Linked DNA regions of Homo sapiens. Changing the gene in region 1 together with any one later gene gives a genetic interaction. Each region holds a gene or a part of one and is shown on either strand. Other genes may lie near its edges.

What was found.
Region 2: changes in RPS6KA4 (region 1) and PTPRJ together harm fitness more than expected from each alone (negative genetic interaction), as found in Homo sapiens cells (one large-scale study listed by BioGRID).
Region 3: changes in RPS6KA4 (region 1) and CYP4F12 together harm fitness more than expected from each alone (negative genetic interaction), as found in Homo sapiens cells (one large-scale study listed by BioGRID).

The regions. Positions count from the first base shown.
Region 1 is NC_000011.10:64,357,973-64,362,103, forward strand, and holds the start of RPS6KA4 (ribosomal protein S6 kinase alpha-4), read left to right. Parts: upstream 1-1,189; 5' UTR 1,190-1,263; coding exon 1,264-1,318; intron 1,319-1,405; coding exon 1,406-1,477; intron 1,478-2,190; coding exon 2,191-2,409; intron 2,410-2,504; coding exon 2,505-2,620; intron 2,621-3,161; coding exon 3,162-3,269; intron 3,270-3,496; coding exon 3,497-3,577; intron 3,578-3,669; coding exon 3,670-3,773; intron 3,774-3,879; coding exon 3,880-4,030; intron 4,031-4,131. UniProt on the Homo sapiens protein: Serine/threonine-protein kinase that is required for the mitogen or stress-induced phosphorylation of the transcription factors CREB1 and ATF1 and for the regulation of the transcription factor RELA, and that contributes to gene activation by histone phosphorylation and functions in the regulation of inflammatory genes.
Region 2 is NC_000011.10:48,168,449-48,171,486, reverse strand, and holds the end of PTPRJ (receptor-type tyrosine-protein phosphatase eta isoform 1 precursor), read right to left. Parts: 3' UTR 648-3,038; downstream 1-647. UniProt on the Homo sapiens protein: Tyrosine phosphatase which dephosphorylates or contributes to the dephosphorylation of CTNND1, FLT3, PDGFRB, MET, KDR, LYN, SRC, MAPK1, MAPK3, EGFR, TJP1, OCLN, PIK3R1 and PIK3R2. Plays a role in cell adhesion, migration, proliferation and differentiation.
Region 3 is NC_000019.10:15,679,468-15,683,114, reverse strand, and holds part of CYP4F12 (cytochrome P450 4F12), read right to left. Parts: intron 2,872-3,647; coding exon 2,818-2,871; exon of another isoform or gene 2,724-2,817; coding exon 2,596-2,723; intron 2,426-2,595; exon of another isoform or gene 1,402-2,425; coding exon of another isoform or gene 1,393-1,401; exon of another isoform or gene 1,006-1,392; intron 727-1,005; coding exon 605-726; intron 1-604. UniProt on the Homo sapiens protein: A cytochrome P450 monooxygenase involved in the metabolism of endogenous polyunsaturated fatty acids (PUFAs).

The DNA.
Region 1 (4,131 bases):
GACCAGGGCCTCTAGCCTGATGCCTGAGAGGCGGGGCAATTCGGCTGGGGTGCAGGATGTGAGTCAGGGTACCTGGGGCCACCCAGGGGAGGGTGGAGCTGCCCAGGGCTGAGATAAGGCAGCCTGAACTTGGGGGGTGCAGAGCTGGGAGGGACGGTCCGTCCGGCCTCCCAGGTGTGACCTGCAGCAGCTTGAGTTCCTCCTCCTCTCAGCCAGGGCTTCACAGGACAGGGGCGTGGGGTGGACACCCTGGCCTCTCCAGCTGGCAGAGGAGCTGAGAGCCCCTCCCACCGGCCTCAGGGTGTGGGGCCTCATGGCTGTCCCACTCTGCTAGGTGGCCCCATTGGTGGTCAGGAAGGGAAAGGCAGGAAGAAGACGGAGCAGGGGCTCAGGAGGACCAGTCAGCAGGGGCCCTGGGCCTCATGGGGAGAGGGGGCAGCCCCGTGTGGCACTGACATCTCTTCTTGAGGCCTGCTCAGGGCTCTAAGCTGGGTACTGCACCAGGCTAGGAGACAACAGGAGCAGAACACGTGAGGTGCGCATGGCACCTGGTGGGCTCTGCACGGTGACTGGGGGCTGAAGTGCTTCTGCAGGCACCCCCGACAGAAAGCTGGTCAGAAAACTGGCCACTCCTCTCCTTGCCATGGGGTCCCAGGCCGGGCTCCAGCCCCCTCTTGGTGATGAGGCTCCTCCTTGCAAAGGCCAGTCCTCTGGGGAGAGGGGCCCTGCTGGCCACCCCCAGGACGATGGAGTGGGGTGGGCTCCACTGCCTGAGAGTTGGGTGACTTCCAGGATCCAGACCCCCTCTCAGCCTGCCCAGCACCAGGCACCTCGTCCCCCACCTTGGGGCACAGACTCCTAATGTCCTCCAGCCACTGGCTGCAGCCGGCATTCCCGGGCAGATTCCTGGCTTGGGGACTAATGCCCCAGAGGCTCCAGGTTACCCACGGGCTCAGGGATGGCTCCCACGGGGTGTTTCCAGTTCCCGGGAGAGTCGAGTAAGGTCCCGGAGCGCACGGCCCTGAGGCCTGGCCTGGGGGCTCGGGAGACAGGGCGGCCCCAGCCGGCCGCCCACCGGCAGCCCGGCGCTGTCACGTTCCAGCCGCCTGACTCAGGCCGCGCAGGGCGGGGAGCCGGGAGGCGGTGCCGGCGCCCGCCTCGGCCCCGGAGGCGGCACCAGGAAGCGCCCGCCCCGGCCGGAGCCGCCATGTAACCGGCGCCGCCCGGAGCCCGAGCCGCGCGGGCCCCAGCGACCCGCCCGCCATGGGGGACGAGGACGACGATGAGAGCTGCGCCGTGGAGCTGCGGATCACAGAAGGTGGGTGTGGGGCCTGACTGCGGCTGCCCGGGGCAGGCCGGGACGGGTCATGGACCGGCTGGGCTCATTCGCCCCCTGTGCCCACAGCCAACCTGACCGGGCACGAGGAGAAGGTGAGCGTGGAGAACTTCGAGCTGCTCAAGGTGCTGGGCACGGGAGGTGAGGACCCCCATCCACCGGGCAGGCGTCCCAGGCGCGGTGCCCCTGACCTCCTGCCTGCTCACTCTTGGGCCTGGGCCAGGCCACTGAGCAGGCCCCCCACCCTTTCCCGGCACAGCCTGCCTTGCCTGCCCCGCCCTGCCTCGCCAGAGTTTGCATGCCCACTTCCAGGGCACTCCACATTGACATCACTCCTCCCTCCACGGTCCTGTGCGTGCATACCCCCCTGGATTTGCCAACACCCTGGGGAGGGGGACTGGCGCCCCTCTCAAGTGATTTGCATAGCTCCTCCCTTTCTTCCAATATGGGATCCCCCTCCCACATTTTGCAAATGCCCCAGCGCTGGTTTGCGCATCCCTTCCCCAGCCAGGTGCACACCTCTGCCTCCCTTCCTTGCACTGGCATCTTTTCACATCCATCTGATCTCTCGCAGGTTTGCATATGCCCCGCCCCCATGCCTCGCAGCAGGCCCCCTGGAGATGCATGCTCCCCAGCCTGGTTTGCACATCCTTTCCCTGGTTTTGCTGGGCACCCTCCCGGGGTGTGCACACCCTTTCCTTAGAAGGCTCTGCCAGCTTTTTGCACACCTGCCTGTTGCCCCAGCTCCTTCGCCTCATTTGCACACCCTCCTGGGTTGGCATCGCCCCCACCCCCCAAGCCTGCACCAATCTCCCGCTCACAGCCCACCCTCCACCCACTCGCTGCTCCCACAGCCTACGGCAAGGTGTTCCTGGTGCGGAAGGCGGGCGGGCACGACGCGGGGAAGCTGTACGCCATGAAGGTGCTGCGCAAGGCGGCGCTGGTGCAGCGCGCCAAGACGCAAGAGCACACGCGCACCGAGCGCTCGGTGCTGGAGCTGGTGCGCCAGGCGCCCTTCCTGGTCACGCTGCACTACGCTTTCCAGACGGATGCCAAGCTGCACCTCATCCTGGGTGAGCGCACACCACATCCCAACGGGGTTGGGGTGGCTGGGGGCAGGCGAGGCCACCTGACGGGGCTGCTTCCTGACTTCCACTGCACCTCCCAGACTATGTGAGCGGCGGGGAGATGTTCACCCACCTCTACCAGCGCCAGTACTTCAAGGAGGCTGAGGTGCGCGTGTATGGGGGTGAGATCGTGCTGGCCCTGGAACACCTGCACAAGGTGGGTGAAGACCTGGCCGCAGGCTGTTGCTATGGAAACTGGGTCTGTGCCTTGGAAGGAATCTGCACGCAGGGCAGCCTCAGGCTTCCCCCTGGGCTTCCTGGGGGGCCAGTGGTGAGCTGGGTGGGAATTGGAGCTGCTTCCCCTGGACCCCTTGCAGGAAGCCTCAACGTTGCCTGGTGGGGTCCCCTCCCCTGGCACCTCCTCGAAGGGGCTTTCCTCTTTCAGGGAACTCGGGGCTGCGTTCACAGAACTTCCTCAAATGGAAACCTCACGGCCTGGCTCCTAAGGCCTCCTTGAAATGGAGCTCTTCACACAGACTTTCCTCTCTCTGGGACCTTGGGGCCTGATCCACGGGGCCCTCCTTCTTTGTTTTATATCTTAAATGGCCTTTCTTATTCAGTGGCTCTGCCCTGGAGACCCCCTCTACAGGCAGATGACTTTCTCTGGGGGGTCTCCTTATCCTGAGCAGGGCCAGGAGCTGGAGGAGCTGGGGAGGGTTTCGGGGAGGAAGCCTCAGCACCCCTCTTGCTCCTACCAGCTCGGCATCATTTACCGAGACCTGAAACTGGAGAATGTGCTGCTGGACTCCGAGGGCCACATTGTCCTCACGGACTTCGGGCTGAGCAAGGAGTTCCTGACGGAGGAGGTGAGTGGAGGCCACCTCTGCCTGCAGTGCCCCATTCAATCCTTCTCCTTCCTGCCTCTTCCTGCTCTGGGCCTGCATTCTGGGGCTGCAGAAGTGAATAGCTCCAAGAAGTTTCCACAGCTCAGCTCTCCAACCTCACAAGTTGAGCGAGTCTTACTCTGGGCCTTGTGGGGCACTGGGGCACAGGAGAGGTTTCGACATCTAAGCAGGACCTCTTGCCCTCCCAGAAAGAGCGGACCTTCTCCTTCTGTGGCACCATCGAGTACATGGCCCCCGAAATCATCCGTAGCAAGACGGGGCATGGCAAGGTAGGTTGGCAGGGAAGTGGGGCTGGGGGAGGTGGAAAGGTGGGGTGTGAGGCAGGGGAGATGCAGGCCCTCACCCCGGCTCCACCCGGCAGGCTGTGGACTGGTGGAGCCTGGGCATCTTGCTCTTCGAGCTGCTGACGGGGGCCTCGCCCTTCACCCTGGAGGGCGAGAGGAACACGCAGGCTGAGGTGTCTCGGTGAGTAGGGCTGGACGTGGAGGGCGGCCAGAGGGCTGCAGGGCCTGCCTGGGCAGGGCTGTGGGTGGGGGGCTTGCTGCCCCTGACACCCCCCCAATCCTCCCAGACGGATCCTGAAGTGCTCCCCTCCCTTCCCCCCTCGGATCGGGCCCGTGGCGCAGGACCTGCTGCAGCGGCTGCTTTGTAAGGATCCTAAGAAGCGATTGGGCGCGGGGCCCCAGGGGGCACAAGAAGTCCGGAACCATCCCTTCTTCCAGGTGAGGCTGACTCAGGGCCCCATACCTCCTGGTGCATACCCAGGTGGGGCTGCTGTTCCAGGTTGAGGTTGTGCCTGGCCAGTTTCACTTTATTTGGAAAT
Region 2 (3,038 bases), about 16 Mb from region 1:
ATTAAAAATACAAAAAAATTAGCTGGGTGTGGTGGCAGGCACCTGTAGTCCCAACTACTCGGGAGGTTGAGGCAGGAGAATCGCTTGAGCCCGAGAAGCAGAGGTTGCAGTGAGCCAAGATCATGCCACTGCACTCCAGCCTGGGCGACAGAACAAGGCTCCATCTCAAAAAAAAAAAAAAAAGAAGGAGATTAGGACACAGACAAGCAGAGGGAAGACCATGTGGAGGCATGGGGAGAAGACAGCCATCTGCAAGCTACGAAGAGAGGCGCCTGAAGGCTGGGGCAGGAGAACTGCTTGAACCCAGGAGGCAGAGGTTGCAGTGAGCTGAGATCACGCCTCTGCACTCCACTCTGAGCAACAGAGTGAGACTCTGTCTCAAAAAAAGAAAAAAAAAAAAGGCCTCACAGGAAACCAACCCTGCCCACATCTGGATTTCAGCCACCAAAATTGTAGGAAGTAAATCTCTGCTGTTTAAACCACCAGTTGGTGGTACTTGTTACAACAGCCCTAGAAAACTAAAACAATCCGGAAATCCCAAAGAGAAATGTGTTTTTGTTAAGGATGCCCAAGTAAAATGCAGGCCAGTAAACTGCTTGGCACATTGTAAGAAGGAAAAAAGAAGAAAGAAAGAAGCAAAGGCATAATGCATTGACATTTTTTTATATTTGGTATTTGTAAGTCTTTAAAAAAATGTTTTCAGGCCATTTTTTCCTTAAAAAAAAAAAAAGCAACCAACAGCAATACTCTGTACAAGTATAACAAACATTAGAAATATGCATCATTCCAAAATAGTTACAGGAAAATTACAGTTTAGAGTCCACATCAACACATCCTATTTGTATGTGCCCCCAAGGGAGAAAAAGCTACAGTATGTTAAACACACAGCTGCTACACAGTAGTCTGAAAACCCAGGACTTAAAACTTTTGAGGCAAATCAACAACAGTCACCAAGACTTGTTTAGCTCAATAAGTACAATCAAGCATTTCAAAAGAGAACCAGGCTTTTTCATCCCAGATGAAAAACACACGTGATGGGCTGCATAGCTGACCCCCGCCCCTCGATCCCCAACCCCCGGGAGCCTCTGACTCAACAGAGCACAAATCCAGTGGAGTCAATTAGGCGGAAGTCTGGCTGGAGGTCACAGTATGGCTGCAGTGGGCAGACACCAAATGTCATTTCCTGCTGGTGCTGATCATCACTAGATCCAACTTTGGAGGCAAAAAGTCGTTGTTCCTGGGAGATGCTATCAATGGCCCAAATCCCCCAAACCAGCTGGCCACCAGTCTTTGGCCCTTTCATTGACACCCAAACCCATACCAGCTGCTTTTCTGTATGCAATTGTCAAAGACTGAACAGGGGTGCTCACACCATCCCCCCGATTCCACTGGACTCTTCCAATTTGAGCTCATTGTTCCTGGGAGGGGTTGAAGCTCAGAGGCACCCTCCTCTTGCCTCTGACCAACCCCCAGCCTGTGTGTCCTTTATATTTACACATTAATCTTCCCTTTTCAAGCACTGTGCTATAAATACCCTTACCACCCCCACTGGCCCTGTCCCCAGCCCTTTTCAGGATGCAGAGAAGCATCGTGACCTTCGTGTGACCTGCCCATTTGGAATCCCAGACCGCTCCCCCGCAAGAGTTCCTCCCATGATTGCTGGGGCCGCTTGCCCATTTCCCAAGCCCACACCAGGCGGAAGGGAAGAGGGTTCCTGTGTTTTTCATTTTTATACAATATGTTTACAGTTATGTTGCTTTAATCTTTTAAAGTATTTAACCTTTTAAAGGATTTTTTAGCAACAAGTCCCTTCCTCTGACTTCTCTGTGGCAGTGATGTGGGCAGAGCAGGGCTTAGGAGCTCCCTGGGATTTGCCACCCATCACAATGGTTTCGGACATATTGGAGGGGAGAGGGCCACAGCCCACAGAACTGCTGCCTGAACAGGGACCTATGAATGAAGTACCGACCGCTCCGAGATCTGTATGAGTTGGAGGCAGGCCAGTGTGAAGGTGTGGGAGGAATCCGCCCACACCCAGCTTCATACAGCACCCTGAGGACAATGTGGCTTCCCTGATTCACACCTACTGAGCCAAGGCCCCCTCTGAAGTTAGGTCAAGAGGGCCCACCCTAGCCGGGCCAACTCATTCCTTTGAGGACCTGATACTCAATGAACTGCTTACTACCAAAAAAATGCAAAGGATTCAGCAAAAAGTGCAATTTCCATTTGAGAAGTAAGATTCTCCCCAAAACATGACACCACCTTTTCATCCTTTCAGTACCTCAAAGGGAAAGGGAAATAAAAGGCATACAGCACTAACCCTCCGAACCACAGCCGGGGCTTTAAAAGTGTGGTTCACCCTTTAGAACCCTAAAAGACCCATTAACACGTCCAGTCAGTTATCGAAGTGCCAGTGAGGTGAGGGGCGTGGCAGAGTCAGGAGGGACCAGGAGGCTGGAAGAGCCCGCTCACATTCTCAACAGGACACACCTGTCCTGTTTACAGCAGGACACATTACTGTGGCAACAGCCACAGGACTCCAGGGACTTGGTTATTCCTTCATAAAACCTTGTCAACTTCATTGCCTATTGGAGGATAAACTCAAAACATCTTCAAAATATAACCTGAGCCACAATATAAAATAAAAAGAAAAAATCTTTTCATGTTAATGCCTTAAGAAGTTTACAGATTATGTACCAATAAAATAAATCCACATAAATTTGAAATTCTTGGTGGATACACACCTGAAGCAAAAAAAAAAAAATTAATCTACATTTTAAAAATCAAAGTAATTACAGCAGCAGTATAGTGAAAAGGTTTTAAAAATAATAATTACATCTTTGATACAAATTCAAACTTTGTACACCTCAATTCATAGGAATGACTGTTTTTGAGAGCTTAGTGTATATATATATATATATATATATATATATATATATATATATATATATACACAGTAGATTCCGATATGTGTCACGGCAGAGAGAGACGAAAGCCAGTGGACTTTGGGGAAGGAGGGATTAATCTGACACTGAATT
Region 3 (3,647 bases), on another chromosome or scaffold:
CTCTTTCTCTCTCTCTCTCTCTGTCTCTCTGTCTCTCTCTCTCTCCCTCTCTCTTTCACCCTGTAAGAAAGAAGAAGCAGCTGGGCACAGTGGCTCATGCCTGTAATCCCAACATTTTCTGAGGCCAAAGAGGGCACATCACCTGAGGTCAGGAATTTGAGACCAGCCTGGACAACATGGTGAACCCCCTCTCTACTGAAAATACAGAAATTAGCTGGGCGTGGTGGTGGGCTATCAGTTTCCCACACAGCTCAGCTCTTATCACATCCATCATCAGCTGAAACTACAAAAGGTCTCTGGAAATGTCTTGATAAACTTCATACCACTTTTCCTGATTTTCAGTGCCCTTAATATCTAGCCCCTACTTCCACAACCTCATTTCTACTGTCTCTTGCACATGCTTGGCTCATCCTAACCTTCTTGCTTTTACACACATATTTCTACCTGGAAAGACAGCACTTTCTCCTCTTCCTCGACCTTCAAAGCACAGCTATGATACAAATCCTCCCGAAAGGTACTTCTGGTTACTTTGCTCATTCCTCCCTCCCCAACTTTCTCCCTTTGGTCCATGGATTCATATCCCAGGCCCTAGGAAGGAACTCACTCCTGACAATGGCTGTCAAAGCTGAAGATGCATTTCTGTAGACTGTCCAAGGTCATGAGGCTGATGTGCTCAAACATGTCCAGACGACTGCTGCCCTCTGAGGCCAGGTGCTGCCACTTGTCCTGGCCAGAGAAGGGAAGAGAGCTAGAGCTGGGCCCTGCCTCCTTTGTGCCCCTCCCCAGTCCCAAACATCAGGATGGACTCCCCCACAACCAGCCTCCTGGTCCTCTGCCCCAGGAACCCATTGCCAGCGAGGACCAGACTGGGATGCGAGCAGAAACTGTTAGTATAGGAGATGAAGACCCATGGCTTGGAGTCAAGAGACCTGCATTCAAGTCTCAGCTCTGTCTCCTATGCTCTATGTGCCCTTGGTCAACATATTGCCCTCCTCTAGGTCCCACCTGTCAAATATTCAATAACGGTCAAGGTGATCTGCTTTGGGGCCAGATAAACCAGGATAGAATCTCTGCTCCACCAGTCCTAGCTCACTTCCTGGCTGGTTGAACTCTGTCCAGCTCCCTAATCTCTCTGGCCCTCAGTTCATCATCTGCAATAGGACAAAAATAACCATAACCTCACAGGATTATTAAAATTAACTTAGACAACTTATATCCTGGCATTGGGACATGACATTTTCTCAGGCATATGATGAGTAAATGTTTGCTTTATTCATCTCCATTGTAATAAATTCATTTCAAAAATATCCCTGTGTTGGAAGAGGCACTTCTTCATCAGCCCTGAGCATCCTTGCTGCGTATGCCACCAATGCAAGACTGTGATGTTCTTACCTGAGCCATTTCTCAGAGTTGTATTTGCAGATAACCACCTGGAGAGATAAGGCAATGACTCCTCCTGGACCAATATCAGGCTTGTTTCTGCCACTATTAAAGTAGATTCCCTAAGCCTAATGCCCATTGTATGTCATGCAATGTACTGCATGAGCAGGCTAATGTAGAGGCCCACCAGTGTCACCCCCATGGAATTTAGGTTGACTCAGAAAAAGGATACAAACCAACAAGAAGTACATGTTGCTTATTGTGCCATGAGTAATCAACTACCCTTTGTCTCTGACCCAGGAATCTGTTAGAATGCATGAGACAGTAACAAGCTAACTTATCAGTTTGCATATTTAAAACAAATCCTAGACACTTCACAAAATCCTGACCCCCAATTCTTCACTTCTCCCTGTATTCGTACCCTTTCCACAGTAATTTTTCAGCAACTCCCATTAAGAGATGCGTTCTATTTTACACCCCTTTGAGTCTGTACTGGACTTTTGACTTTCGACTTTCTTTGGCCAGTACAATGTGGTGAAATGATGATGTAATAACTCTAATAGACTCAAACCTGGTTGAACTTTGAAGTATTGCAGAGACAATGTCCACAGACATTGCAGCCTCCTCTCAGTTTCTCGGAGCCCAGTCTCTGCCATGTGAACAACAGGGTGCCTTCTGGAGGCAGAGAATCACATGGGGGAAAGTCCAGGTGTCACAGCTGAGCCCATCCCAGATGAGTCTGAAGGTACTGAAGCCCCAAACGTGAATGAACTGAGCCAGGATCAGCAAAGCTGCCCCCCGACCCACAGCTGCTCATGTGCCAAGAGTGATCCCTTCCACATCCAGAAGAACTGGCCAGCTGTCTCACAGACTCGTTAGCAATTGTAAACCCTTATGGCTCTAAGCCAATGAGTTCTGAAGTGGTTTATAATCAGCAATGACTACTACACAATCTTCATTTTTACTCTCTTGAGTTTACAGGGATTCTGTGAGAAAAACACAGAAACTGACACCTTCTGAGAACCTACTGTGTGCCAAGTAAATGACCTTTCAAGTAGGGATTATCATCCCCATTTTACAGATGAGGAAACCAAGGCTCAGAGAGGAAGAGCAATGGCCCAGTGCCACCCAGAAGAGCCAAAATTCCAGACCAGATGTGTCCATGGTCCCTCCACCCCAAGACTCCATCTGGGACCCAGACTTCAAGGGACTCACAAGCATGATGTTTGCACTCTTGTTGAAGATCGTTATATAGGACTTCAGGATGTTGAAATGGAAGGCGGGCGTCAGCATCCGACGGTGGCGGCTCCACTTGTCACCGCCACTCAGCAGTATCCCTTCTCCTAGTAGGGCAGCCAAGGACAGTGGGCAAGAGCAGCACTTCCCCTACCCTCCCCGCAAGGTTGTCCCCAACCCCTTTCACCTGCAGGTACTCACCCAGCCAGGGCTTCAGGAACCTGATGAAGAGATTATCCTTGGGTGCAATGGCAGCTGACATGAACGAGGACCATCAGGGGCCATGTAGAGGGCAAGAGAGGAACTTCAGGTATAGGGCAAGGCTGCCTACCAGCACTTTCCCCACTCCATGCCCAGCATAGCAGGAAGGGGGCCAAGGGCAAAGGACGAAGGGAGGATAGAGGAAGAAGGACCAGCCCAGGCTGCAACAGCACAGTAAAGCTATGACACAACCTAACAGGTCATAGCACACCCCAGCACGCCTTGACATGGCTCCTATATATCCCAACATGTTCTGCAACAACTGAACACAGCTCCACACTCTACAAAATACCTTTAAAGGACCTCGGACACCCTGTCTGCCATAGCACTCTCTGTCATCTCCTGACATGGACCTGAGATAGTCTGACATGACCTCTGTGTACCCCACAGACAGGCCCCAGATAGGGTTTAAATGTGATTTCTTAAATGTCCCAGACATGTCCCAGGTGGAACCAAGAGTTTTCTTCAAGCGTGATTAGAATGGATTCCGAAACCTGGCTCAGGGAGACTAAAATAATAACTCTGACAATTCCAAAGAGACCCTAGCTCCCAGACCTTGGACAAGCTACAAACATGGCCAAGAGATGACAAGGAGGAGAAAAGACAATTTCAAATCACATGTCAGAGAAGAACCAGAAAGTCTCTGACATGCCCCAAGTGTCCTCGACCACAGCTGAGCCACACACATGATGACTTCTCCATATGATCCCAGGTTAAACAGAAAAGATATAACCAGGTATAATATTGAAACTATAGGCGGCTATTTATGG